Homo sapiens: one gene and its partners. The protein of the gene in region 3 purifies or fractionates together with the protein of the main gene of each other region. This does not show direct contact. Each region holds a gene or a part of one and is shown on either strand. Other genes may lie near its edges. The genes, in order: CCDC25, PLS1, SLC25A32 and PMVK.

What was found.
Region 1: the proteins of SLC25A32 (region 3) and CCDC25 purify together in Homo sapiens (affinity purification with mass spectrometry; 3 studies listed by BioGRID and IntAct, with this or other methods). This does not show direct contact.
Region 2: the proteins of SLC25A32 (region 3) and PLS1 purify together in Homo sapiens (affinity purification with mass spectrometry; 3 studies listed by BioGRID and IntAct, with this or other methods). This does not show direct contact.
Region 4: the proteins of SLC25A32 (region 3) and PMVK purify together in Homo sapiens (affinity purification with mass spectrometry; 3 studies listed by BioGRID and IntAct, with this or other methods). This does not show direct contact.

What each region holds. Positions count from the first base shown.
Region 1 is NC_000008.11:27,769,630-27,776,768, reverse strand, and holds the start of CCDC25 (coiled-coil domain-containing protein 25), read left to right. Parts: upstream 1-4,128; 5' UTR 4,129-4,228; coding exon 4,229-4,256; intron 4,257-4,700; exon of another isoform or gene 4,701-4,795; intron 4,796-7,139. Other genes in the region: N-acetyltransferase ESCO2, read right to left, coding at 1-407, 1,202-1,254.
Region 2 is NC_000003.12:142,591,377-142,599,393, reverse strand, and holds the start of PLS1 (plastin-1), read right to left. Parts: upstream 3,002-8,017; 5' UTR 2,885-3,001; exon of another isoform or gene 2,046-2,884; intron 1-2,045. UniProt on the Homo sapiens protein: Actin-bundling protein. In the inner ear, it is required for stereocilia formation. Mediates liquid packing of actin filaments that is necessary for stereocilia to grow to their proper dimensions.
Region 3 is NC_000008.11:103,412,087-103,419,618, forward strand, and holds the start of SLC25A32 (solute carrier family 25 member 32), read right to left. Parts: upstream 3,022-7,532; 5' UTR 2,852-3,021; coding exon 2,698-2,851; intron 1,446-2,697; exon of another isoform or gene 1,337-1,445; intron 1-1,336. Other genes in the region: DCAF13 (DDB1- and CUL4-associated factor 13), read left to right, coding at 3,361-3,430. UniProt on the Homo sapiens protein: Facilitates flavin adenine dinucleotide (FAD) translocation across the mitochondrial inner membrane into the mitochondrial matrix where it acts as a redox cofactor to assist flavoenzyme activities in fundamental metabolic processes including fatty acid beta-oxidation, amino acid and choline metabolism as well as mitochondrial electron transportation.
Region 4 is NC_000001.11:154,926,699-154,933,719, forward strand, and holds part of PMVK (phosphomevalonate kinase), read right to left. Parts: intron 5,718-7,021; coding exon 5,654-5,717; intron 2,479-5,653; coding exon 2,326-2,478; intron 1-2,325. UniProt on the Homo sapiens protein: Catalyzes the reversible ATP-dependent phosphorylation of mevalonate 5-phosphate to produce mevalonate diphosphate and ADP, a key step in the mevalonic acid mediated biosynthesis of isopentenyl diphosphate and other polyisoprenoid metabolites.

The DNA of each region.
Region 1 (7,139 bases), about 76 Mb from region 3:
GTCTATACTTTGGTTGATACTTAGCAGTTAAACTCTTCTGTGGTTTTTTGTTGTTCTTCTTGGAGCAGACTGGTTTTCCTTGCATTTTTTCTGTCACAATGGGAAAAGATTTATCTTCATCATTAGTTTTTAGACAAGTAGATCTACTCTCTTTTATCAGCTTTCTCTCCAGTGGATTGAGGTACCACTTATTTTGGTTGTAAAAAGATACAGTGGAGAGCGCAGATTTAAATGGTGAGCCTTGATTTGCTGATGGCAGTCTATTTATTTCAGTTGTTTTGAGCGCACTTAAAACAAAATGCTCTTGTTGAGAGCAATGCAGGTTTTCTTCATTTTTATCACTGTTTTGATAAAAACAGTGCTTTTTATTAGGTGATGGAAACAGATTTTCAGTGAAGTGTAAAAGGCTATAAAAAGAAACAAAGTCCATTGATAAGATTATTTTGCGTCAAAATTTACATAAATCTACTGCTAAGTAAGCTCTACTTGTAGGTCATATTAAAAACAATACATGTACCCCCCATACACACAATTTTCTATTAGTTTAACAGTAGGATTCTCAAATTCTGTCTTTATCAAATAAAACATTCAAATATCTTCCCAAAGAGTTCATGAAAACAAATACTATATACAAAGAAGCTATGATAGACATATATGCATGTATGTTTTAAAATCGATTTCTATGTGTTGGCCATATATAAATTATAGCTCATATATTTTGCTCTATTGTTTACAAGCCCCCTATAATAACTGTCTGTAATGAACTGACCCCCTGGGGCTTTTCCTGGGTAGAGTAATTAATATCTGAGTACACAGTCTTTCTAGAATTGTTTCCAGACAAGCATCTACTGTATGCAAAACACTGTAAAATATTATAGGGGAACAGAAAGGAAAAAGGTAATAGCTGATTTGGTATATTTCCTAGCTATAGAAAACAGCTTTCTTCAATGTGCTGCTTCTATGTCAAAAGAAAAAAACAAAAACTAAAAAACAGCTTTGATTCCCTTGAAAAGGACTAAATAATTCATTATGAAAACTTAATGTATTTCCAAGCTAGAATTAGAATATAGGTTATCAGGTTATCACTGTAGCCACAAGGAGTAGGCTAGTGGAAGAACGAAAATTTTAGAAAATAGGAGAGAACAAGAGAGACAAGAAGGTGGATTTTTCTAAGAGTTTCTATTCACAGGCTGAGATTCACCTGTCACACTTCAAAGAATCCTGCTTCCTCTTCCTTGGAGTAAGAGCTGCCATTTTCTTTATTGAATTCCTAAAAGAAATGACAATAACCACATTCATCAAAATATTAAAAATCGCTTTATCAAAATTATACCCCCTTTAATTAGTCTATTTCACACCAAGTTAAAACCCTATTTTCTGGGAGGTCTTCCTCGACATTGCTCTCCTTCCACCCCTCCAAGGGTTACACGCGCTTGTTCTGCTTCCATGGCACCCTGTATTTCCCTAATAGTCCATTTAAGACATTTTCTTGTTTCCCCATCTCAACAGCCTTCAATGAAGGCAGAGACCGTCTGTAACTTTTCATCAGAGCCCAGCAAGAAAACGGGTGAAGCACAGTCCTCTGCCATTTTCCTAGCTGATGAGCCCGGAGCAAGCCGTTTGCTTCCCTTTTTATAAAAATCTCTTGAAGTCGTAAGGCTGCTGAAAACAAATGCTAGAATGCACGAGCAGGCGGCTACGTGGCTCGTCAGAATTCATTTCCTTCCCCTTCCCTGGGATCAGGGAAATTCCCCCCAAAGCAGCACACAAGCGTTATTTCAAAGCTATTAATGAATGAACAAACTGAAAGGCCAGGGTCTCTGGGAATTCAGGTCGAGCTGCGGCTTAAGGGGGGACCCCTCTGGGGCTAAGCGAGGAAAGGTAGGAGAGGAAAGCGTCCCGACCCTGAACCCGGTCAGGGAAACAAACAAACAAACAAACCCTAAACCCAAAACAAGGAAACGCCGGCGTCGGGAAGAGGGAAACCCGGCGCCTGTGAGCGCGGAGAACGAGTCAGTGGCTTCTTCGGTCTCGGGCCTGCGGACCTGCCGAGCGCCGAGCAAAAGCTCTTTCCCCGTGACATTCGCCCCCACGTTCCACAGGGTCTCCCGCTCGCCTCAGCCTTCCACAGCCCCCCGCCTCGGCCTACTCCAGAGGTTACCTGCGCCTCAGAGCCCGGCGAGCTCTCCTCAGCCTAGCCAGCCGCTCCGTGAGCGTCTTCAAATAATCGCGCGCCAGGCTAGGAGGAAGCCGCTGCGTTCCGATTGGCCACGGCTCAGCGCTTCCAGGGGCTGGCTCGGTGATTGGTGGAGCACCAGCCCTTGCCCCGCCCACCCTGGTGGCTGTTTCCAAGATTCTCGCGCCCTGGTGAGGTGAAAAATCTCTGAGGGAAACCACGCCACCCACAATCCCCTGCAGCAACGCCGGACTCCGTTCCCGGGGCCTTGTTTAGGTGCATTCTGGGAATTGTAGTTCTCGGTCCAGTTGAAGTTGAGATACATTCTGGGGTCACGGGGTAAGAAATTTTTGTAAAATGGCCTCTCCAGCCTGGCGACAGAGCAAGACTCCGTCTCAAAAATAAATAAATAAATAAATAAATAAAGGCCTCTCCAAGATTCTCGATGCACTTATTTTTCACATTTGAAGCTTCATTGTCAGTTTCACTTTTTTTATTAGTAACTTTAGGTTTCTATTTATTTTTCAAATTAAAATATAAAACTTAACACCTGCTATGTGCCAGGCATTCTTAGATGCTTTACATGTTTTGTTTCATTTACTTCTTACCACAATCTGTAAGGCATTAATATCTATTGCCATTCCCATTTTACAAATAATACAACGGAGAACCCAAAACAATTGCTATTTACAGAACAGAGCTAAATTCTTACTTTGGAAAACCAGAAAGTTCCTAAAACGGTTATTGTTAGCTATTGTTACTATCTTTGTGTCACCAGCTCCTGGTACAGTGTTTCTGGCACATTTTTAGTTTCAAATAAGTTTAGAGTTTTATGTTTATTTTTTCAAATTTAATTTTCACAAATTTGTATGTCATCCTTGAGCAGGGGCCATGTTAAAGTTCTCTGTATCATTCCAATTTTAGTATACATGCTGTCAAAGCAAGCATGTAAATAAATTTCGTTAAGTGACGCCCTCAATTTCATAGAATGAAGTCAGTGACAGTGATGTAAGAGTGTCAGTTTAAAAGGAAAAGGCTGAGGCAAAAAAAAAAAGAATGTAGAGTTTGCTTGAGTTAAAGCGGGGACAGCTGCCCAGAAGATTCCAACCCCCCTCCCCCCACCGCCCTCCACCAGCAGGCTTGGATATGAGCTCTGTCTGGCCTTTGCTACAAGCAGGTTTTTAAAGACGAAGAAGGGGGGCAGGAAGTGGGCTGATACACAACTGTCAAGCATTCTCATTGATGTATAGAAACTACAAGCATCAGTGATTGGCTAGACATTGTTAAACTATAGGGTGTGGGTCATGTCATAGTGTCTTGTGTGGCAGTGTTAGGTTAGTAGGTAGCTACCTGTGGCAGAAGCAGGTAGTTTCAGTAGATGAATACATAGCTCAAGGGGGTGGTAGAACATGATGGGGTCTTATCTTAATGCCTCTCCAGACCTAGTAATTTAAAGGGACTCACATTCCTCAGATAAAAGTGCTTTCTCAAGAGAAATAATCAGGGCAAAGCCAAGTGCTGTAGGAGCTTTACATGAATATGATTATTCCTACTTTATAGCAGGAGGACCTCTGAGGTTCAGAGGTTTGGGATGGCAGGCCTTCGATTTAAGCCAGAACAAAGTCCAATCCCCAAGAGGCATATTGTCCTGGTGAGTATCAGAAACAACTCGTTTGTGTGCTATGTTCTAAACCCTTGGCGCCCATTAACTTATTTAACCCTAAAAAATATCCTGTGAGTTAGCTGCTCTAGTATCATCTTCATTTCGCTGCTGAGGAAAGTGAAGCACAGACAGGTTAACTAACGTGCCCAAGATGCCCAGCCTCTTTCCCTTAACCCACAAATCACTGAACCAAACTCCTTGCCACTACACTTCGCCTCGCCAGGATTAAAAATGGCGCCCACGGCCGGCGTTATGACGCGCCCCGACGTCCGCCGGAAGTGCACGGAGGAGTTCCGGGGGCCAGGCGGCCGCCGCGAGTCTGGTATCCTGAGCTTCGTGAGTTGAGCGCTGCTGCTCCGCGGTGGAGTCACCGCACCGCTCCCGGGATCATGGTGTTCTACTTCACCAGCAGCAGCGGTGAGTGGGCGCCACGTCCTCCTGGACCCTGCTGGACAGCGGGCTCCGAAGCCGGGACCCGCAGTCCGCCGCTGCGCCTGACCCTCGCTCTAAAATGCCTTCTGGATGCGAGTGCCTCTTCCCGCGGCCTCTCGGTCCCCCAGCACATCCGTCCCTCCCACGGCTGCAGGATTTCCCCCGGCGTCCCCTCGTCATGGCGTGGGGGGCGCGGAGGGGCGATGCCACTGCTATGTTTGTATCGGGGAGTTCTCGTCCCCTAATCGGAAAGACGTCCCGTCACTCCCTGGGATTGGGCAGAGCCTGTGGGCTCCTCCACACACCTTATCCCAAGTCTTCTTCCCACCTTCCATCTGCGGCCTTTGTTCTGGCTGAACCCTTGTAATTATCCCCTGTGAGAAAGGAGACACCTGCTAACAACTTTTTCTTAAGGGAAGCGCGACTTACCCTTTCAGGAAGGGGTTGTAGGGTCTGGGATGCAACAGAAAACAATAAAAAGACCCTGGGATGTCCACCCAGCCACTCTCCGGGCAGTTGATGTCCCAGATCTCAGAAGTGACCTATGGTAATGCTTCTGACTTATCTTTGACAGATAAGGAAAGGGTGCCCTTCGTTCCCAGGAAATGCAGTGTCCCGACTTGGTTTCGTTCTGTTCCTGTTATTCCCCTTTCCTAAAATCAACCCCCAGCTAATTCCCTTAAGACAGTTTTGGCCCATCTTTTCCAAGATGCCTTTCCTGATGCTAGCTCCTACCCCAAGATTGCTTAGCTATTCCTTTCCTGGGACCCACTTAACGTTCCAAGTATGCCTTTGGCATTGCACTTATCACGTGGTATTAAATGGTGTCTGCTTGAGCTAGAGTGTAAGTCCCTTGAGGGCGTGGACAGGATCTCTTTACAGTAGTCCCTACTTGTCCTGTATTTCGCTTTCCGTGGTCACATCATCACAAGAAGAAAAGGAGTGAGTACAGTACAATAAGGTTTTGAGAGAGAGAGAGAGCAGAGTCACCTAACTTTTATTACAGTACGTTGTTATAATCGTTCTATTTTATTATTAGTTATTGTCAATAATCTCTTACTCCACCGAACTGATACATTAACTTTATCATAGGTATACATATATAGGGAATACCAGTAGCCATGCGTCCCTTAATGACAAGAATACATTCTGAGAAATGCTCCATTAGGCGGTTTCATTGTTGTAGCAACACGGTAGAGTATACTTAAACCTGTGGTATAGCCTACCACAAATGTAGGCTGTACAGTATACCGTTGCTCCTAGGGTACAAACTTGTACAGCACGTTGCTGTACTGAATGGCTGTAGGCAATGGTAACGCAATGGTGTTTGTGTATTTAAACGGGTCTCAACGTAGAAAAAGTGAGTTGCACCACGCTGTTATGATGGCTACCAGGTCATCAGGCAATAGTGATCAGAATTTTTCAGCTTCGTTATAATGTTATGGGACCACCATAGTATGTGTGGTTTGTTGCTGACCAAAGCATCATTATGTGGCAAGTCCCTTTATATATGGAATTCAGTGTTGTCCTCGGTTTCAGGCATCTGCTGGAGATCTTGGAAGACATCCCCCACAGATAAGGGGGGACTACTGTACTTGTTTCCCTAACGTAGTGACTGGTTAGTAGTTCTCAATAAATGCTTGTTGAATAAATGAATGCCATTTTTTTACTTACTTATAGCACTTTCTATTCTATTGCTACTCTATATGCTTGTTAAAGGTGAGTTTTTTGTTTTTGTTTTTGTTTTTTTTTTTTTTGGAGACGGAGTTTTGCTCTTGTTGCCCAGGCTGGAGTGCAATGGCACGATCTCGGCTCACTGCAACCTCTGCCTCCCGGGTTCAAGCGATTCTGCTGCCTCAGCCTCCTGTGTAGCTGGGATTACAGGAATGCGCCACCAAGCCTGGCTAATTTTGTATTTTTTTAGTAGAGACGGGGTTTCTCCATGTTGGTCAGGCTGGTCTTGAACTCCCGACCTCAGGTGATCTGCCTGCCTCAGCCTCCCAAAGTGCTGGGATTACCAGCATGAGCCACTGCGCCCGGTCTAAAGGTGAGATTTATTTTATTTATTTTTGAGACGGAGTCTTGCTTTGTCACCCAGGCTAGAGTGCAGTGGCACGATCTCAGCTTACTGCAACCTCCATCTCCTGGGTTCAAGCGATTCTGGTACAGCTAGGATTACAGGGACCAGCCAACATGCCTGGCTGATTTTTGTATTTTTAGTAAAGATGGGGTTTCATCATGTTGCTCAGGCTGGTCTTGAACTCCTGAGCTCAAGTGATCTACCCACCTTAACCTCCCAAAGTGCTGGAATTACAAAAGGTGAGTTTTTGTTTTGTTTTGTTTTTTGTTTTTTTGAGATGGAGTCTCCCTCTGTCACTCGGGCTAGAGTACGGTGGTGTGATCTCAGTTCACTGCAACCTCTACCTCCTGGGTTCAAGCAATTCTACTGCCTCAGTCTCCCAAGTAGCTGGGATTACAGGCACACGCCACCATGCGTGGCTAATTTTTGTATTTTGTTAGTAGAAACGGGGTTTCACCATATTGGCCAGGCTAGTCTCGAACTCCTTACCTCAAGTGATCCACCCGCCTCGGCCTTCCAAAGTGCTAGGATTAAAGGCGTGAATCACCACGCTCAGCCAAAAGGTAAGATTTAAGTGAAACTAGTTCCACATTGTTTGTGTGGGTTTGAATAAGGCAATACTTTCTCTTTAGAAGTAAGATTGAGGCTCAGGGAAGTTGTAACTCACAGACCCTACTCTTCCACCTTCATCACACTGACATCTCCTTATTTTTCTCAGTAGTTTAGCCTTCCACAGTGTGTGCCATGAGCTATTTCTCTGTCTCTGTACATGTGGTTTGTTTTACCCA
Region 2 (8,017 bases), on a different chromosome or scaffold from region 3:
TGCGCCACTGCACTCCAGCCTGGGCGACAGAGCGAGACTCCATCTCAAAAAAAAAAAAAAAAAAAAAAAAGAATATCTGAGTCCCTCCTCTATACAATTAGGGGATAGTCTGGATAAAGCGCTACCATATAGCTCTAAGATCCTAAATGCCCACCCTCCCCATGGCAAAATGCACTTTTTATTTATTTATTTATTTATTTATTTATTTATTTATTCATTCATTCATGTAATAACTATTGAGTGTCTGATACTGCAAAGCAATGTGCCAGGTATTGTGAAGGGTTAAAGGTCATCCTTCAGAGAGCTTATCATCTAGAACGGGAAATAAGACAATTACATCACTAACTAAGAAACAGAGACAATGTCACAATTCGAGGTACTTTTTTTTTTTTTCAGATGCAGTCTTGCACTGTCGCCCATGCTGGAGTGCAGTGGCACAATCTTGGCTCACTGCAAGCTCCGCCTCCCGGGTTCATGCGATTCTCCTGCCTCAGCCTCCCAAGTAGCTGGGACTACAGGCGCCCACCACCATGCCCCCCCAGCTAATTTTTTGTATTTTTAGTAGAGATGGGGTTTCACCGTGTTAGCCAGGATGGTCTCAATCTCCTGACCTTGTGATCCACCCACCTCGGCCTCCCAAAGTGCTGGGATTACAGGCGTGAGCCACCACACCCAGCCAATTGGAGGTACTTTTAAGATAAAAAGAACATTATAAACCCATTACTAACACCCCAACCCTGAAATTCATTTTCAACATGTCTTTCCTTCTCTGCATTTAGTCTTTCACCACATGCTTCTTCCTTTACATTTCTTAATTCTGTGCCCTCTTTTCTCCACTTTGAGTCACAGGCTTAATCCAGGGCCTGGACCAACTGACCCGTGTTTTTACGCCTGTCTCCTGTAATCCCCCTAACTAATCTGTGATCTGTTATCAAAATATGAGGAATCAGAAATGGACTTGGCTGCTGTCTTGATACAGCTCTAACATGGCCTTCCCCATATTATAGAACACACATGAAATCTCTTTACAAAACTATACATACTGCACTTCCTTCCCCCACTCCCTCCCACAAACAGGGGCTAAGAATATACTTTGTGCTTAGTGCTGGGTGGGATGTTTAAGTCATAGGCTTTAACCTCCAAGAGCTTACACAACCTGCCAACTTCCTGGTCGGGAAGTTGGGAGGTGCTAAAATACTCAGGATACTATATACAATGGGGATACTAACAGCACAAACAACAGTAGTAAGTGCTATAGGGTTCAGAAGAGGGAGAGCTACTTCATGCTAAGGCAATCAAGGAAGGCTTCCAAAAAGAGGTCACACCTGAGCTACACCTTGCAGCATGAGCAGGACTTCAATACGGAAAGAGGGAGGCAAACAGGCATTTTGGGCAAAGGGCCCAGGTGACTGAGGGAAGGAAGGAGGGCGTTTTCAGGACCAGCAAATTGTTAGGTGGGGCTTCAGTGAAAGGGCACTTTTTGAAAGGAATTTATGAGGTACTAGGAAGCTTAGTAAGAGAAACAACTAATTTTCTGCTTAAGCCAGACTTCATGGTATAAGTAGAAGAGAAAAAGGAAGTTTAATAATGGAGGTAAAGAAGAGTATCTGCAGGGAGTGGTAAAAAGACCCCAGAAAATGAGAAAACCTGGATCCCAGGCCTAGCTTTGCCAATGAGGGGCTTGGGTGGCCACAGCAAGTCATCTAACCTCGCTGGTCTCAGTTTTCTCATTTGTAAACTGAAGCAGCTGAACTGGCTGACCTCAAAGGTCTCTACAGCCAAAACTAGACCAGCTGTATATTATTTCTGCCATTAAAACATTTATCATGGGAGGAATGAAGGGGGGCAGGATACCTGTATTCCCTTTCCATATAGGTTTCTCTTCCTGAACTTAAAATTTCCTCTTCCTAAACTTACTACCTCTCTCTCTATATATATATATGCCTCCACATTACACATTAACACTTTACTATAGAATTTCATTACATAATTCAACTTAAAGGAAAGCTGATTACAAAGGTGGTGGGGGGTGTAAAAGTACTTGCTTCAAGTTCAGTGTGTGCCCCCTGTCCTGAAATTTTGCTTCTGGCTCACAGGTTCTTCAAGAAATTTATGCAGCACAGCTGAAGCCTCATACAAGTGTATCCAACACCGTGGCTGGAGGGAAAGATATCACGGTATAAGCCATAAAATGTGACATAGTAAGTAAGTAAAGGAGGAAAAGTGAGAATTCTGTTACTCATCTAAACGACCGCTTCCTTTTAATAGTACCAAATGAAGACCGAAATACAGTAATAATTGAAAAGTTAGGGAGAAATCTTAAATTTTTTTAAGTCTCCACTTGAAAATGCAGCTGAAACACGGAAAGTTTTTTGGCAGTGAAATTCGCTGAAAACTGACATTTTTATGCCGCATCCAGAGGTCCCTATGCTCCAGGAAAGGTACCAAAAACAGCACGGATGGGATTTCACTACAGCCCTATTGATCCTATGCACCAAAAGGCCAAAGGCAAATAAACCAGTCCCAGAATTAAAACAAAACAGGCTGGTTCAGAAAGCCTCACCGGCAGCCACCCAAAGTTGAAAGAAGAAAACTTAATGAAATACCTTATTTCATTGCATAGAATCACAATTCAGTTAACAGGCTTATTGTTTAAGCAGTGTAAATACGCGATTTAACACCTGCGGGCACTGCCTGCCGGGACTGGGCAGAAGCGTGCCCAGAGGACGGCGGGCGCCACACTGCACAGCCAGGAGACGAGACGCGAGCGAGGGGACCCGGAGATACTGCCCCCGAGCCGCCGCGCGCCCCCAAAGGAGTAACGCTTCGCTTTCCATCTGTCTGTCCAGCCTTCCTTTTGGGCCCTATCCCCACCCCCGCGTACCTGCCGCCACCGCTGTCCTGCCTTCGAGAGGGCAGCTCCCACTGGAGATCCAAGTACCTGCAGGTCCACTCTGCGGCTACCTCTCCGCGCCCGCGTAGCCGCTGCGCTCGCGCCACTGCGCATGCTCGGCCGGCACCCGGGCCCGCAAACTCTGAATCCACTTGCCGCGTTTTGCCTGCGGCTCCCAGGGGAGGGAAAGGGAAGCCCAGAACCTGGGTTTAGGCTAAGGGTGAAAGAGGAGTTGCAGGCGCTGGGAGCGTGGATGGGGAGAGGTGGACGGGCGCTGCGGCAACGTTATCTCTACCGCCCACAGTTACCCAAGTCTAAAGATGACCACCTACACCCTGGGAATGAGTTTAGCACAGCAGTTCTCAAACTTGAGCGTGGATCAGAATCACCTGGAGAGCTTTTTAAATCACAGATCCCAAACCCGGAAACTGAGTTTCCGATTCAGTTAGGTCTGGAGCGTAGCGCGACAGTTCCCATTTCTAACATGTTCTCAGCGAAAACTGGTGCTACTAGTCTGGGTACCACACTTTGGGACCTGCTGGTCAAAAGGAAAGGTATACGTTATTAAAGGAAGACTTGTTTCTCTCCCCTACTCTTTTTTTTTCCGTTTGTTTCACGGATTGCTTCCTTTTCCTTTAACAGCCACACCTGATTAAAATAAATATATAACTAAAGCCCACACTCAAACAAAAGTGGGATATTTTCTCTCGCATGTGAGTCAGGTAAATGGAATGCTGCCTCAAGAGTTCTCACATACTTTGCCTGAAGCATAATCCGTAGTTGTGGTCTGTCCAACTCAGTCCAGAGAACAGAACAAGGTTTTGCTGCCCCTTTAACTCAAAGTCCCACGTGCCCCTTCTGCGCCTAACACAATATCCAATACAGAATAGGCACCCAACCAACCCTGAGATGGTAACAATAGAAAAAATAAAGGGGGGAAGTTGAAATTATTTTAAGAACTCAAACAAATTGGACGAGCAATGAACTATGAAAGTAGGTGGGCCATGGAGAGGGAAGATAAGGAATTTTTCCCACCTGCCACCTAGAGAATCAGGTGAATTTAGTATTCTTATCTGATTTTTCCCACCTGCCACCTAGAGAATCTGGTAAATTTAGTATCCTTATCTGATACTTATTTATCTAGATATGCAAGGGGAGTTAAGTAAGTTCTCACAAAATAAAGCAAAATATTTCCTTAAAAGGTAAACATACATCTAACATATGACCCAGCCATTTCATTCCTAGATGTTATCCAAGAGAAATTAAAACATATGCTTACACAAAAACTTGAACAGGAATGCTCATAGCAGCTGTTTTTCACAAAAGCCCCAAACCAGAAGGAACCCAACTGTCCAACAACATGTAAATGAAAAAACAAATTGTGGTATATTTATACAATGCAATACTACTCAACAATAAAAAAGAAGAAATACTCTCACACAGGACTCAATATGGATAACTCTCAAAATCGGTATGCTGAGTTGAAGAAGCTAGAGACAAAACATATTGTATAATCCCACTTATATGAAGTACAAACTAACCTATAATGACAAAACCCAGATTAGTAATTGCCTGGAGCCAGGAGTGGAGGGAAGGATAAACTGCAAATGAGCAGAAAAAATATTTTTGGAGGGGGACGATGGAAATTTTCTCTGTTTTGATGGTAGTGACAAGTTCACAGGTGTATACAACTGTCATCGCTAAGTTGTACACTTTAAACATGAAAAATGTGTGTAAATTATTCACCAATAAGTTTGATAAGAGAACACTTTTTCATGAAATACTCTTATGATCTGTTTTTTTTTCGTGGTAATATTGACCAGGGCAGGTTCATGAGGAAACGTAGATTCTAAATATGGTATAACCTGATTTGGGAAAGGTAAAATAAAAAGTCATCCTCTGTAAATGAAGCTAAAAATAATGCATATAAAATGTCTGTAACAACCCTCTGTAAAAGCAGCCAACCCTAAGATATGATTTGTAAATATACCATTGATAAAACCGTTTCCCAAAATTGTTTCCAAGTGTAAAATAATAACTAGAGTATATCATTAGAAATGCACAACCAGGGCCCAGTGCAGTAGCTCACGCCTGTAATCCCAGCACGTTGGCAGGCCAAAGTGGGCAGATCACCTAAGGTCAGGAGTTCAAGACCAGCCTGAGCAACATGATGAAACCCCGTCTCTTCTAAAAATACAAAAATTAGCCGGTCGTGGTGGCAAGCGCCTGTAATCCCAGCTACTCAGGTGGTTGAGGCAGGAGAATCTCTTGAACCCAGGAGGCAGAGGTTGCAGTGAGCCAAGATCAAGCCACTACACTCTAACCTGGGCGACAGAGCGAGACTCTGTCTCAGAAAAAAAAAAAAAAGAAATGCACAACCAGCGTGTAATAATTATATAAAGAAAATTGTTACCTGCTTAACTGATTGTATCACTAGCAATGACAAATAAGGTATTCAAACTGTGTTTCCAGGAGCTCTGGGTTTCATGGAGAGAAAAATACGCAGGGCTCTGGATCAAGGACCCTAACCCAGACTGCTTACATATTGTAGTATCTTGTGAAATCTTATTTGATAAAAGGGTTTCACTGATAATTTTGTTTTTTTGAGACTGAGTCTCGCTCTGTTGCCCCGGCTGGAGTTCAGTGGCACGACCTCAGCTCACTGCAACCTCCACCTCCCAGGTTCAAGAGATGCTCCTACCTCAGCCTCCTGAGTAGCTGGGATTACAGGTGCACACCACCACACCTAGTTAATTTTTTTAATTTTAGTAGAGACAGAGTTTCTCCATGTTGGCCAGTCTGGTCTCGAACTCCTGACCTCAGGTGATCCACCCTCCTCGGCCTCTCACAGTGCTGAGATTATAGGTGTGAGCCACCGCACCTGGCCATCATTGATAATTAAAAGAGCAATCGTTTGAAAACAATTGAAGTAATAGTATCAGGTCGTAAGAATTCACAAAGAGATGGTATATTTGGTGGACCTGTTTTTTGGCTTGCAGAGCAATGAGAAAAAATACATACAAAGATTTTTAAACTAGTTAAAAATGTACACTGTAGTTATAGTAACCATATGTTCCAATTTTTGTAGAATAGTCTTCATTTAAATATTTGTTTATTACATAAATTATATCTAATCATGTATTCCAACTGTTGGTTGAAAAAAATAACATCTTTTAAGCTGGGGGTTGTTTTTCAAAATAATATAAAAAATCACGAACTAAAAATAAAACGAGGATAAAGCAGGGCATGGTGACACACACGTAATGCCAGCATTTTGGGAGGCCAAGGTGGAAAGGGCACTTGAGCTCAGGAGTTCAAGACCAGCCTAGACAACGTGGAAAAAACCCATCTCTAAAAAAAAAACAAAACCAAAATTAGCCAGGTGTGGTGGCATGTGCCTGTGGTTCCAGCTTCTCTGGAGTTTGAGATGGGAGGATCTCTTGAGTCCAGGAGTCTGAGGCTACAGTGAGCCATGTTCACTACACTGGACTCCAGCCTGGGCAACAGAGCAAGACCCTATCCGAAAAAAAAAAATTGAGCTGCTACTGGGTAGTCACCATTTTAAACACTTCACCGTATTTACTCATTGAATATCCATGCCAACCCTATGAAATTATCCTCAATTTACAGATGAGAAAACTGAAGTACAAAATGTTATTTTTCCCATGATAACACAACTAAAGACTAAATAATTACAACTACATTTTTAAAATATATTTTATATAAAGACAATCTTTGCTAATTTCACAGTTTCCAAGGATCCATCTGAATTATTAATTTATTTTTCCAGGCTCATTGATACTAAGAGGGCTACCAAAAAAGCAGAGCTCTAGTGATTACTGCCATCATCATCTTCATTATCATTGCTAATATTTATTCCATGTCTTCTATGTACTAGCTACTGTGCCAAGAAGTTCACATTGTTTATTTCATTTAATATTCATGAAGACAAAAGTGCAGATTCAATAATAATAGGTAACAAAGACAGCGAATGGCGGAACCAGGATTCCAACTCAAGAGTGAATGGCGGGCCGGGCGCGGTGGCTTATCCCAGCACTTTGGGAGGCCGAGACAGGTGGATCACTTGAGGTCAGGAGTTCAAGAACAGCCTGGCCAACATGGTGAAACCTCATCTCTACCAAAAAATACAAAAATTAGCTGGGTGTGGTGGCATGTGCCTGTAGTCCCAGCTACTTGAGAGACTGAGGCAGAAGAATTGCTTGATGCAGGGAGGCAGAGGTTGCAGTGAGCTGAGATCACGTCACTGCACTTCAGCCTGGGTGACGGAGTGAGACCTTGCCTCAAAAAAAAAAAAAAAAAAAAAGCTAATGGAAGAACCAGGATTCAACTCCAGTTTTCTACTATTTACAATACTGGTCCCTGTATTCTAAGGGAAAAATATTGGCATTCTGGATTATAACCGAGTCTCTGTGAATGTGGCTAATGTTAGTTCATTCCCCAGAGCCTGATGGTTTCTAACATGCTTATAACCACAACACCCCACTGCAACCCAGCCCTGATCAGCATCCCGAAATCAGCTACTATATAGGCACCAATTTTACAATCAATTTTAGAAAAGTAGGTGCATTCTGAATGATACCAGCAAGTGTGATGTGACCATATTTATTTCATTTGGCTGGTTTTTTTTTTCCAGAACAAAGAGAGTAGAGAAAAAAACATATGTGAGAAAGACTAAGATTCAATATTCAGTCTGTGGCCATACCACCCTGAACACTCTCGATCTCGTGTGATCTCGGAAGCCAAGCAGGGTCAGACCTGGTTAGTACTTGGATGGGAGATTCAGTATTCATTTCAACTCTGAATTTATGATAAATCATTTAGAAGAGAAAACAATAATATGAGAAATAAGTCCAAAAAAACAGGGCAAAACTTCTCTCTCTCTCATGCATACACACACACACACACACACACACACACACACACACAAAATTTAACACACACACCGTTTTGATCTAACACAGATAAGATCAAAATAGCCAACAAAGCACACACACCTAAACCCACCTACCACCTAAAATCTCATGAAATGATAAAGGGGATAATTTTATTTGTTTATTTTAATCATTATTTATTTTTGAGACACAGGGTCTCACTTTGTCACCC
Region 3 (7,532 bases):
TAAAAATTATAAAGGATTAAATCAGTTAGTACATATAAAGCTCTTAGAATTATGCCTGACATATTGCAAGCACTCTGTAAGTACTAGTTTATTTATGCTACTGGGTCTTGCGATACCACATACTTACACAACTTTACTCGGCACTACTGTTACTGAATTTTACGTTTTGGTTCCTTAATATTTTGGATGTAGTCATAGTCTCTACATTCTTCACAAAAGCTCACACACAACTTTAACTTGCAGATTAGGCTTTTGGGTATTTGAGAAAATTACTATTTTTACATCTCATTCTTTGTTGGGGCTCTCTCATCATTCTTGAGGGTTTAAAATTACAGAGTAAAGTTAGAAGGGGCCTGAATAATCATCCAATCCAATCTTTCCACCTAATACAAGAATATCTTCTAACTTCTGTCATCCAACTACTATCTGAACCACTTCTGATCATCATCAATTTCATTTCTGAGCACTGCCACATTGCCAAACCAAAATCTGCTTCCTTGTAATTTCCACTCAACCTGTGTCTGACCTTAGGATCAACCCACAATAAGGCAGCCCCCTTTCCCACATGTAAGTTCTCTAAATATCTTGAGGTTTTTTTCTCTCCCGAGCTAAACTAGTTCCTCCAGTCATTTTTCATATGAAGTAATTTCTAATCTTTCTACCACTCTGGACACCTCTGAGTTCCAATTTATACTTGAACTCACAGAAAAATTCCAGGTTTGGTTTAATAGCACATGCATTCAGAATTAACCCCCACACCCTGTCATCATTAGATTTTAACTTTATTAAATGAGTTTAATTACATGGAAGCATAAAAATTATAGTATGTTACTCAGCACTGATGTTGATAATCAATAAATTTTTATTTCGTTATTCATCTTCTTAAGTTTTCCTCCTATCACCATTTCACAGCTACACTGTGAGCTTTATTATTACAAAGTCCTGCTTCCACTCCTGGATCTTTAATTTAGGCCTCCAATCCAAACTCAATCCTTTTATCTGTCACCTCAGCCCCACTAGTCTCCTAATACTCTTCCCAATTCATCAAGACTATTAATCTTCTCAGGTACCAAGAATTCCCTTTCCTCAGGAATGATATGCTTCAAAGCACTGTCTAAACTCATCAGGCCAACCACACTATTCTTCAATGATCACCTCGACTATCACCTCTTCTGCTCCTAGATAAAATGCTACTGAAGACAGACAGCAAGTCATACAGGCCTGCACCTGCAGGCAAGTCTAAAATTCTTCCAATGTTCAAACCATTGTATAACAGGTACTTATAGAGGTAATACGGTGAGGGGTTAAGTGCCAGAGGGTTCCAGAGTTAGATTACCTGGGTTTAAATCCCAGATCCATCTTTACAAACTTGTGACTTGGGCAAGTTAGTCAACTTCTGTTATCCTCATCTGTATAGCAGATATCATAAACTCACAGGATTGTTCCTGTGAATAGATTTACAGGATAATAAATGAGATAATGCATCTAAAGCATAGTTCACTGCCTTGCTCCTAGTAAATACTCGATAAAGATTACTTGTCAATAACATAATTATTTGTGCATGCATCATAAAACTTCATGACATTATATGTCTTTGTGGTGTTTTTTCTAGAGATAATACTCCATAATTTTCGATGATTTTCCTTCATAGAACGGGTTCTTGCTTCCTCTCCAGCTGTCAAAATATTAGCCCTTCTATGGGAAACCCCAAGCCCCAATCTTCCACTGAACCTTAAAGATACACATGGCCATCAGTAATGTAGAATTTTCTTAACGGTTTACCTGTATTTATATTTTGTTTTTGTATTTCTTGATTTTATGTTGTCTAGAATTACCTTTTATATGACTAAGTCTAACGCCTACAATTAAATTCTAAGTTCCCTGAAGGCAAGAACTTTATTAGATACTTCTGTAGCCCATACAGCAGTCTACAAATATTAAGAGAATATAAATCAAGTGAACTGAATTGCCTAATGCTAAAATAAACAACTTCTGTAGATTTAATTCTCAAGGCTGAACTTAACTTGTAATAACTTTATTTGGAAACTATTTTCTGCAATTTCAGTTATCAAAGATCATCTTTGAAACTCTTTCCAGACTTTAGTGTTGAGTTTAACTTCTAAAATGCTTTGTTAATTTCAACATACTCAATTCATCTAATACACTTAAAATAGTATTTCGATTCTAGCTATTTTTTCACAGAAACTTGTACCATTCTACAAATGCCAAAAAACAAACATTCAAGAGAATTCTATTCTAAATCTACTCCCAACCATTCGCTGAAGATTACGCCCTATCCCAATACTAGTCGAGCTGCCAAACCACGTGGGTATGCTAAGATTTCAAAGTTCCTCCAAGAGTGAATGATTTGCACGTGTGAGGACTAAACCTTAAAATGTGACAATCCCTTCTTTATTTTACAAATCAGGCTTTGAATCCCATCTTCTCTGCCAATGAGGATGTTTTTTCTCAGACTTCTCTACATACATGCCCCCTCTCTTAGTCTTGAGGAGCGGGGAAGATCGCAGGCCGACCCCTCCACCAAGCACCATTTCCTCAAATCTAGTTCAGGTTAGCCAACGCGGACAGCAACGCTCCCTTCAACGCTCCTCCTCCCCCTAGAACGGAAAAGACGGAGGAGATCCAGTTCGGGCTGACAGTGAGAGGATGCAGCCCGGTGTCTGGGCGGGCTCTTACCGGCGAAGCGGATCTTCACGAGGTCGAGCGGATGCAGCGCAAGGTTGGATAAGACGCCGCCGCTCACGCCCGCTATCAGGTTCTCATACCGGACGTGGCGGAATACCGTGCTCCACGCCGACGACCCGGACGCCGACTGGCCCTGGCCCGTCATAGGCTCGGGGCCCGTCGACACCACGGCGCCCAGGGCCGCGGAGGTGGGACGCGATGCAGTGGCCGCCACCGTGGCGACGGTCGCCCCTTGTGAGCGCAACCCCACCTCCGGGACCAACGAGAGGACTCTTATGCCCAAGGCGCGTGAGCGAAGCCGGAGACTCTAGTACTGAGGGGGCAAGAACGGGGCACAGACACTACGTCACGCCGGCGGAAAGCGCGATGGAGGGGAGGTCCCAGCCTCTCCCGAGTCTCCGCCCTGCCTCGCCCACAAATGCTCCAGCCCACGGACGCGGAAGCGACTGCACAGCTAAAGAACCGCCCCTTGCTAACGTTTGCCGGCAAAACTACGGAGCGGCGCAGGATCCAGTTGAGCCAGCAGGCCGCCGCTCCGCGAGTCACGTGACTGGAAGTAGTCTGGGAAAAGCGGAAGTCGCCTGTGGGAGGAGGTGGCGGTGGGCGGAACTCCTAGCGGACACCTCGTGGAGTCCGGCCGGAAGAGCAACCGAGATGAAGGTGAAGATGCTGAGCCGGAATCCGGACAATTATGTCCGCGAAACCAAGTTGGACTTACAGAGAGGTAAGATAAGTTGGTAGGGAGAAAGGGACGGTTTCCGCAAGTCGTTGGGTCTAGCCTCGGCTTTCGCGGAGTAAAGCCGGGGGAGGCTGGCACTCTGGTCTGGTTCTTTCTCAGTTACCTTTCGCTAAGGCAAACTTTGTGCTTACGGAGTCGCTGCGGAACTGGATGGATAGCAAGTAAAGTCTGTTCAAGTCCTTTTTCTAAGAATTTCCTCTAGTGGTGAGTGGGAAACAGTTGTCTATAGTGGAGAAAAATTCCAGCTGCTGCTCTGGGATTGTCTTCAGGTTCCTATTACTGAAAAGTGGACTTGAATGAGCCAAACTCGTGGGTTGAAGGGCTGAGAGTTAAACAGGCTTTTAAAACCTTCCTACTGCTCTTCTTGCCGCTTTACTACTTCACATTAGTTGTGGATGTTGGAAGAGACAAAGATGAATTTAAAAGCATCAGTTTTCTCTTACCATCCCTTAAGAAGTTTGATGAAAGAATGGTTAAATGAAATTAATTTATCCTTCCTGGTCTGTTCCCCCGTTAACATGCTAACCACTTATAAATTGTACTTTGTGATACCTAAATGACAAGGGACCAACCATGCGTAAGCAGATTGTTCTAAATAAAGAGAATAACAGGAGCAAAGGTCTTCAGGCAGGAATGAACCTAAGGCATAGAAAGAAGGGCTGTGTCATTAGTTTGAATGAGGAGTAAGCGAGATGAGATGAGGCGAAAACAGTATTTCACTATTTTGGTTGAGTAGGAGATATTATCAACATGTGTGTGAGCATTGCTAATAAGTCTCTGCTCAAAAGATGTTTACAGTTTGTCACAAGGCAGTAATGTTTCTAAAATATAAATTAGATTTGTCACTTGGATTTGGCATCGTTCCCAGTCCTTGAATCTCTGGTCCCACCTTCCTTGCCACTTTAGTCAGTCACTACGTTTCCCACAAGTGGTTTAGTATTCACCCTTGCAAATCTCAGTGCGTTTCAGTCATCTTTTTTAAGGCCTCCTGTGGCACACACCCTTACCCAGTTTAGCCGCTTTCTCTGGAAGACTTTCACCGAACAGTAATCTGTTCCTGCTTACCTCCTGCATGAGCCCCGCCCCCTTCAGCACCCGTCTTCTGTGATTCTATCACTTCTTCACAGTGTTTATCACATTGTCTCATGATTATTATTTTGGTTAATAGTCTTTCCCATCAGACTTAGCCTCCAAAAAGGGGAAGAATCATGTTCGTGTATGCACTGTTAAGACAGCACCTAGCACATAGTTGCTTTAATAAATGTCAGTTTCTCCATCTATAAAGATTCATTTTTGCCTACATGAAGAGATTTAGAAACAAAATGATCTATCTTGTTGGGGTTTTTAAACTTCTGTTGAAATTATTAAAATGCTAATTTTAGTTGTAGGAACAGCTGCTGACATCAGAGTAGATAGAAATTTTCTAGACTTCAAAAATAATCTTTGCAAAACTGATGGATGAGACTGAAAATTAAATATATTAAATAAACGTGGCCAATTATGGACATTATCATTTTGGGTATGCTTTCTTTGTGAAGTACAGGCATTCTGCACTTTGCACAGTACCATATTAACTGAACCAGTCCCACTCTTTAAGAGGTTTACAGTGATTGAAATCACATCTGTTAACCACGAAACTTTGCAAAGTGGGGAATTGATTCCAGTATGCAACCCGTCCCGTTAATACAGTACAGTGCGAAAGTGAGTACTGCTTGAATTTTTTTTATAATAGTAGCCATTAAAACCAAACATTGAATTAAGCTGAAATTAGAACCTTTAAATCTATCACAGTGTTGAATCAAGATTTTTCTTAAAAAAAAAGATCTTTGGCTGGGCGTGGTGGCTTATGCCTGTAATCCCAGCACTTTGGGAGGCCGAGACGGGCGGATCACGAGGTCAGGAGATTGAGACCATCCTGGCTAACACAGTGAAATCCCGTCTCTACTAAAAATACAAAAAAATTAGCCCAGCGTGGTGCTGGGTGCCTGTAGTCACAGCTACTCAGGAGGCTGAGGCGGGAGAATGGTGTGAACCCAGGAGGCAGAGCTTGCAGTGAGCCGAGATTGCGTCACTGCACTCCAGCCTGGGTGACAGAGGGAGACTCCGTCTCAAAAAAAAAAAAAAAAAAAGAACATCTTTAATTACATGCTCTCATTAACATACACATATGTTGAGAAGGGATCTGCTCAAAAACTCTGTTATTAATGGGGCACACAGAAAGTTTGAAGACTACTATATAGGGAGCCTTTGGAAGTTTTAAGCATGGGAGTGACATGTAAAAAGCTGTTTTAAGATGACATCTGATAGGCTGGGCGCAGTGGCTCACGCCTGTAATCCCAGCACTTTGGGAGGCCGAGGCGGGAAGATCACGAGGTCAGGAGATCGAGACTATCCTGGCTAACATGGTGAAACCCCATCTCTACTAAAAATACAAAAAAATAAATAAATTAGCCGGGCATGGTGGCGGGTGCCTGTAGTCCCAGCTACTCGGGAGGCTGAGGCAGGAGAATGGTGTGAACCCGGGAGGTGGAGCTTGCAGTGAGCCGAGATTGCGCCACTGCACTCCAGCCTGGGCAACAGAGCAAGACTCCGTCTCAAAAAAAAAAGAAAAAAAAAGACATCTGATAATAGTGTAAATTGCCGCCAAATCAAGTAGGGATGATATTAAAGTAGCCCAAGTATAAGATAATGAAGACCCAAACTGCCTGGGAATGCAGTGGCTCACATTCATAAACCCAACACTTTGGGCGGCAAAGGTGGGAGGATCTCTTGAGCCCAGGAGTTCGAGAGTAGCCTGGGCATCATAAGGAGACCCCCGTCTCTACAAAAAATTTAAAGATTAATGGGGCATGGTGGTGCATGCCTCAGGTCCAAGCTACTTGGGAGGCTGAGGTGAGAGGCTAAGGTGGGAGGATCACTTAAGCCCTGGAGGTTGAGGCTGCAGTAGGCTATAGTCATATCACTGCATTCCAGCTTGGGTGACAGAATGATACCGCATCTCAAAACAAAAACAAAAACAAAACACAAAAAACTAGAAATAGAGAGTTGAAAGATGAGTAAGTGTTGCAAAGAGATGATGAGTAGGACTTTGAGTTTTGGTAGTAGGGAATATGGAAGATGGAATACATAAGAATGACCTAGGCTAGAGCTTTGTTGAATGTTAGATATAACACCATTACCAGGGAGTCAGAAAGAAACAGCAGGATGAAGTCATGGGGTAAGAAGATGCATTTACTTTTTACTCACTGAGTTTTTTTAGACATACGAGCTTAAAATTACTTTCTAAGCATAATTATATATATATATATATATATATATATATATATATATATATATTTTTTTTTTTTTTTTTTTTTTTTTTTTTTTTTTTGAGATGAAGTCACACTCTGTCAGCCAGGCTGGAGTGCAGTGGCGCGATCTCGGCTCACTGCAACCTCCACCTCCCAGGTTCAAGTGATTCTTTTGCCTCAGCCTCCTGAGTAGCTGGGACTGCAGGCACATACCACCCCCACCGCTGGCTAACTTTTTGTATTTTTAGTAGATGGGATTTCACTGTGGTAGCCAGGATGGTCTCGATCTCCTGACCTCGTGATCCGTCCGTCCCGGCCCCCCAAAGTGCTGGGATTACAGGCGTGAGCCACCACGCCCGGCCCTAAGCGTGATTATTAACCAAGACAATGTGTTTAGCAGCGTATCAGGACAGTTAAAACATAGATTCTGGAGCCATACTGCCTTGGTTTGAATCCTGGCTCCACCGTGTCGTATTCGAGTTACTTAACCTCTTTATGCCTCAGTTTTCCCATCAATAAAGTGTGAGATAGTAATAGAACTTAACACATAGGATGCTGTGGAGATTAAACGGTTAAGGTTTTTGGAACAGCGCCTGGCACTTGAACTCTTATGTGAGTCTTTTTTAAGTAAGTAAACAAACATAGAAAGTGCTCAGTAAATGATAGCTATATAATATCATCATAATCACAACTTCGTGTGTCTATCAGCACAGTATTTAGCACCAGAGATTAATAATGTTCCCTGCCCTACAGGAAGCTTAGAGTTCTGTTGAGCAAACATCTTGCACATATTTTGT
Region 4 (7,021 bases), on a different chromosome or scaffold from region 3:
TTCATTAATCCAATTAAACAAGTATTATAGTAAGTACCTACTGTACGCTGGTCACTGTGCTAGGTGCTAAGGCTAGACTGGTAAGCAAAACAGACCCTGTGCCTGCCCTCTCAGAGCTTACAGTCTAGTGGGAGACACTGAACAAGTATTCAGTAATCAAATAACCATGTGATTACAGTGTATGTCAACAAGTGTCTCAACCTCAACACGGCTGAAACTCAACTCCTGATTTCCTCTCCAATCCTGTTCCTCCCCACCTTCCCTGTCTTAGAAAATGATAATTCTATATTTGTCCACCTGCTCAGAACAAAATCCTTGGTATAGTCTCTCACACCCCACAGCCAACCCAAGGGCAAATCCTGTTGGTTTTCTCTTCAAAATACACGCAAAATTGACCCCTTCTCTCCACTCTACGTTTGCTCCCCTCTGCGCCCCAACCATAGTCATTTTGTCTGTTACAGAAAGGTCCTGGCCAGGCATGGTGGCTCATGCCTGTAATCCCAGCATTTTGGGAGGCCGAGGTGGGTGGTTCACTTGAGGTCAGGAGTTCAAATTTTGCCAAATGGTAAAACACCGTCTCGACTAAAAATACAAAAAAAATTAGTTGGGCATGATGGCACATGCCTGTAATCCCAGCTACTCGGGAGGCTGATGCACAAGAATCGCTTAAACCCACAAGGCAGAGGGTAGAGTGAGCTGAGATCGCGCCACCGCACTCCAGCCTTGGTGACAAGAGTGAGACTCTGTCTCAAAAAAAAAAAAAAAAAAAAAAAAAAAACACAGGAAAGTCCTCCACCCGGCCCCTGTGCTTCTGCTCCCATCTTCCCCACAGCAGCTATGGCCAGGCTTCTCAATCTGAAATCAGATCATGTCTCTCCTCTGCTTAGAACGCTGTAGTGACTCCCCATCTCACTCAGAATAAAATCCCAGCTCTCCCAAAGGTCCGCCCTGGGAAGTCTGACCTGACCTTCCACCACTCTGGCCACCTGGCTTGTCCTCAGACACACCAGGCACACTCACCACTCAAGCCTCTGCACTTCCTCCTCCCTCTCTCTGGAAAGCTACTTCCCCAAATATCCATTCAGTTATCCCTTATTTCCTTCAGGTCTTGCTCAAACATCATCATATCAGTGTAGCCTTCCCAGGCACCCTTAATAAAACAGCAACGCTTCCCTATCTCTCCTCATATCCTAGGCCTACTTTATTTTACTCCTTAGTATTTACCACTGCCTGATATATTCTGTATTTATTCTGTGCCTATCTCCCCGCCACCCTCAGCTGTAATGTAAGCTCCCTGAAGGAAGAGATTTCATTGCGCTTTTGCACCAATATATCCCCACAACATGCAACCACACCTGGCAGAAGTAGACACTCAATATTCACTGCCAGAATGAATGAGGAAAAAAAGGGGTAGGGTGCTATAGGAGCACCTGCCAGGGAGCACCAGTTAAGACCTGAATATTAGGGAAGGCTTCCCTGTGGAGGTGTCATGTCAACTGAGCTGAAGCTAACCAGGGAAAGAGAAAGAAAGGGCAGTCCAGACAGGTGGAAGGGCATGTGCAAAGGCCCTGATTCCAGAAGGAGTTCGACTGACTTGAGGACCAAGAAGGCCAGTGTTGCTACAGCTTAAGGAGTAAGGAGGCTAAAAAAGTAGCAGAAACTGGATCACACAAGGCCCAGAAGTTCATGTGAAGGATTTTCATTTTGTTCATGAGCACAATGGGAAGCCACCAAAGTATTCTAAACAGAAGAGTGACATCACCTGGTTCACGTTTTTAAAAGGTCAGTCTGGGCCGCATGCAGTGGCTCACACCTGTAATCCCACTATTTTGGGAGGCCAAGGTGGGTGGATCACCTGAGGTCAGGAGTTCGAGACCAGCCTGGCCAACATGGTGAAAACCCGTCTCTACTAAAAATACAAAAATTAGCCAGGCGTGGTGGTGGACACCTGTAGTCCCAGCTGCTTGGGAGGCTGAGGCAGAAGAATCACTTAAACCCAGGAGGCAGAGGTTGCAGTGAGCCAAGATTGCGCCACTGCACTCCAGCCCAGGCGACAAGTGTGAGACTCCATCTCAAAAATAAATAAATAAATAAATAAATAAATAAATAAATAAATAATAAAAGGTCAGTCTGGCTACTGTGTAATGAATAGACCACAGAGGGCAAGAGCCACAGCTAGAGACCAGTGTGGAGGCTACTGCGACTGTCCAGGCCAGAAATGGTGGGGGCTTGGGCCAGGATGGTGGCAGTGGAGACAGAGAGAGATGGACACAGCGAAGAGCTAGGGAAACAGGTGTTCTTCATGCTGCCATGGAGCCCTCTTACCCAGATGGGCTGGGAGATGCCCTCCACAATCTTCCTGCAAAAGAAGCCTGGGTCAGCCTGGCGTTTCTCCTCTCCCCAGCGGATCATGTCCTTCCGAAAGGCCTCCTTGTAGGTGCTGGTGTCCAGGAGTCTCTGGAAGTTCAAGCCATGCTCCTGCCCAAAGGACATTATGTCTACGTCACCGGCCTTTCAACCTCAGTGGTCTCTCCTAAAACAGCGGAAGAGCCATCCCTCACCCTCACCTGCCTCCCCCAGGGCTGATGCAAGGATTAATGAGGTTTCAGCCAGGACAAAGGTCTGCAAGGGCAAGAGTCTCAGCAACTAAGAAATCCCGATCACTGGTAGACAGAAGAAAGGTCTGGGGATAATCCAGAAATTGTTTCAATTTGTCTTTGAAATATGTGGCGTGGTTTCTCTTTTGCAAGTTTTACCTTCCCAATTATTTCTGGCTTAAACTAATACTGAAATTAGTTTGCATCCCCTGGGCAAAGGCTTAGCCTTCAACTAAAGTGGGAAATCTGAGGGGGGAAAAAAAATCCTGCACTCCATGTCCTCCCACTAGCATTGTTTGCCCCCATCCCAAATCCCACGGAGATTGTGTCTCCTTTCTCTCCCCCTTACCCCTTCCCATCCCCAAATTCCTGGCGCCTTTGCTGAAACAGCATCACTCCATCTGGCTCTGGGCACTTGCAAGGCCTCCCACACCCAGAGGACCCCCAAGGCAGGAGAGGTTACTCTGACCACCCTGGGGAACTCCTTTCTCCCCTTTCCAAGCAGAGGGGTCCATCCAAAGGGATCCAGGATAGGAGGGGTCTGAAAAGCATCACCTCGTTCAGATTCTGGCTCCTCCATGAACTCACTGCAACAAGACCTTCTCCCCTCAGGCTCTCAATTTCTTGATCACCCACCTGCTCCCCTTGCTGCAAGAGGAGGTCAGTAGCCACCTCCTGCTCCTGAACCAGTTTCCCTCCAGGAGCGTTGTGGTCTACTTGTTGGTTATATTTCTTCTTGTGACTTAGGAAATCAATGCATGAACATTTCATTTTGGTTTTGTTTTTTAATGGGAGTGGGGGATAGAGTGGTGCTGGACTTGCACAGAGCAAGGGCAGTCTGGCCTATCAGAGTCTTCCATGGAGCTTTTAAAAATGCAAACTGGCCAGGCACAGTGGCTCACGCCTGTAATCCCAGCACTTTGGGAGGCCGAGGCGGGCAGATCACAAGGTCAGGAGTTCAAGACCAGCCTGACCAATATGGTGAAACCATGTCTCTACTAAAAATACAAAACAATTACCCGGGCGTGGTCACCCATGGCTGCAATCCCAGCTACTCAGGAGGCTAAGGCAGTAGAACTGCTTGAACCCCAGGAGGTGGAGGTTGCAGTGAGCCAAGATCGTGCCACTGCACTCTAGGCTGGGCGACAGAGCGAGACTCCGTCTCAAATATAAATAAAATAAATAAATAAATAAAAATGCAAACTCCTGCTCCTTCTTCCTCCCGCCCCCCACCCAACCCCACCAGTCTCACTCAGTAGGACAGAAGCAAGACCTGTCTGGGAACTTTGGAAGATCAGTTTTGAAAGTGCTCCTGGGAGGCCTTTGGAAGTGCCTAGGCCCCACTAGGGAAGGCTCAGTGCCTTCCCCTTCACCCCTTCCTTCCTCCCATCCCCCCACCACCACCCCACCACCCTGCAGCATCGCTCCCAGTCTGTCTCCTGGATACAAAGAAATTCTGTATCCAGTTTCATTTGGGAAAGAATCCTGCTTAAAATTTTTGAAAACCAGGCCAGGTAAAGTAGCTCCTGCCCAAATCCTAGCACTTTGGGAGGCCATAGTGGGAGGATCACTTGAGCCCAGGAGTTGGAGACCAGCCTGGGCAACATAATGAGACTCCCATCTCTACAAAAAAAAATTTTAAACTTAGCCAGGCATAGTGGCATGCACCTGTATTCCTAGCTACTTGGGAAGCTCAAGTGGGAGGATCACTTGAGCCCAGGAGGTCAAGGCTGCAGTGAGCCATTATGCGCCACTGCACTCCAGCCTGCGCTACAGAGCAAGACCTTGTCTCAAAAAGAAAAAAAAATAAACCACTTAATTTAGTTATTCTTACAATTCCTCAGGCTGCCACCCTATGAATAGGTCTGTTCAGCTGGTGAGAGATGACCCAATGCTTCCCATGGAGGCAAAGATGGCATATAGAAGGGGGGACAATTCATTTTATGTGGTTCCGGAAACCACACTCTGGCCAATTGAGGGGCCAAAGCACACGTCCCAGAAGGGTGCACCTAGAGGTCAAGGGCAAAATGTGGCGACAAGAGGGCTCTTCACCATGTGGGAGGCTGATCTTGCCTTCCAAGTTCCCTTTCTGAAGTCTAAGATTCTGAGAGTTCCTGTTGACTTATTTTTTTTATTCTATTTTAACGATTCTATTTTTTTTAATCCATGTGGTTCAAAATTCAAAGATACACATTAATTTACAGTCGAAAATCTCTCTCTCACCCTGTCCCCTCCCTGGGGGCAACCAATGGTACGGTTTCTAACCTGTCTTTCCCATGCAGTGCAGGAACACATCCCAGGCACCTGAAACAGTGCTGAACATGAGACAGGCACCCTGTAAATATTTGTTAAATAGCCAAATATATGAGCAGATATATTTAGAATTCTTTTACAATTCTTGGTCACAAAGTGCCTCTTCAGTTTTAGACAAATGTAGCATTCTCTACACACTGTTCTATATCTTGGTATTGGCTTTTTTTTTTTTTCACTTAATGATATATTTTGACAACTTCTGGGACTAAATTTCTTTTTTGTGTGTTGTTGTTTACTTTAAAAAAAATTTTTTTTAAAGAAACGGAGATGGGGTTTCACCATGTTGGCCAGGCTGGTCTCTAACTCCTGGACTCAAGCAATCTACCTGCCTCGGCCTCCCAAAGTGCTGGGATTACAGGCATGTGCCACCGTGCTCGGCCTGTACTAAATTTCTAGGAGCAAAGTTCTAGGGGCTGTGTCAGGCCAGCTGAGTGAGAGGGTGGTGTGAGGAGGCACAGGCAGGTCCTTACTAATCACACAGCATCAGAGCTGCCAACTCGAGTGTCGACAGCCTTTCCTGGGCACACCTTCCTGAACTCACTCTGAAGGGAGGGAGGCTATTAGGAAAGAAATATAAGCTGAAAATGCCCCCGAAAGGTCCACTCACAGAAAACCAAGAGCTGGCCACCACCCTGCCAGCAGTGGTGACGGGAATCATGCCAGTGACTCAGGCAGCAGCCACAGCTCCAAAGTCCTGGAGCCGGCCCCGCCCAACACACCGGATGCCACAAAGCACCACCTACCTGAGCATACTGTTCCTTGAGTGGACCAGAGAGCCGGAGGACAGCACAGACATCAGCTCCAAGTCTGCAGGACAGGGAGATCAGAATCCAGTTAGCCTAGAATTTCCAGGAGCTTCCATGTCCCAGAAAGGGAGTCAAGAGGCCTGTGTTGAAGTCCCATTTCTACTACTGGTATTATGTAACTTTGGTAGGTCTCAATGTCCCTGATCCTGTTTCCTCATCAGAAAATGGGGATAACACTTTCTGTTCTGTCTCCCACACAGGATTATTATGAAACTCTAAAGAATATAAAAGAGCCCTGAAACTAACAGGTAAAACCTATAAAGTGCTAATTACAGTGTGAACAGGCGCACAATATTCTAGCTGGATTAGGTTATTGCCCAGACCCTAAACTAATTCTCTCATAGCCAGAGGTATCTGTCTCCACTGACTTGGTCACCATAACATATATCATTTATTAATTCACTGGTTGGGCATGGTGGCTCACACCTGTAATCCCAATACTTTGGGAGGCCAAGGCAGGAGGAGTGCTTGAGGCCAGGAGTTCAAGACCAGCCTGGGCAACACAATAAGACCCAGAGATACCATCTCCACCAAAAAATTTAAAAATTAGCTGAGCATGGCAGCATGTGCCTGTACTCCCAGCTACTCCAGAGGCTGAGGTGGGAGCATTCCTGAGCCCAGGAGTTCCAGGCTACAGTGAGCCATGATTGTACCACTGTATGCCAGCCTGGGAGACAGAGTGAGACCCTGTCTCATAAAAATGAAATAAGAAAAGCAAATTTAAAAAACTGAAACAAAAGCCAGGTGTGGTGGCTCACGCCTGTAATCCCAGTACTTTGGAAGGCTGAGGCAGCAGATCACCTGAGGTCAGGAGTTTGAGACCAGCCTGACCAACACGGTGAAACCCTGTCTCTACTAAAAGCATAAAATTAGCCGGACATGATGGCGCATGCCTGTAATCCCAGCTACTCGGGAGGCTGAGGCAGGAGAATCACCTGAACCCAGGAGGTGGAAGTTGCAGTGAGCCGAGATCGCCCCATTGCACTCCAGCCTGGGCAACAAGAGTGAAAATCCATCTCAAAAATGAAAATAAAAATAAAAATAACTCATTCGTTATTTAATTTACTTAACCAACCTTTTTTTTTTTTTTTTTTTTTGAGACGGAGTCTTGCTCCACCACCCAGGCTGGAGTGCAATGGCGCGATCTCGGCTCACTGCAATCTCCGCCTCCCAGGTTTGAGCGATTCTCCTGCCTCGGCCTCCCAAGTAGCTGGGATTACAGGCGCCCGCCACTACACCCGGCTAATTTTTGTATTTTTAGTACAGACGGGGTTTTGCCATGTTGGCCAGGCTGGTCTCAAACTC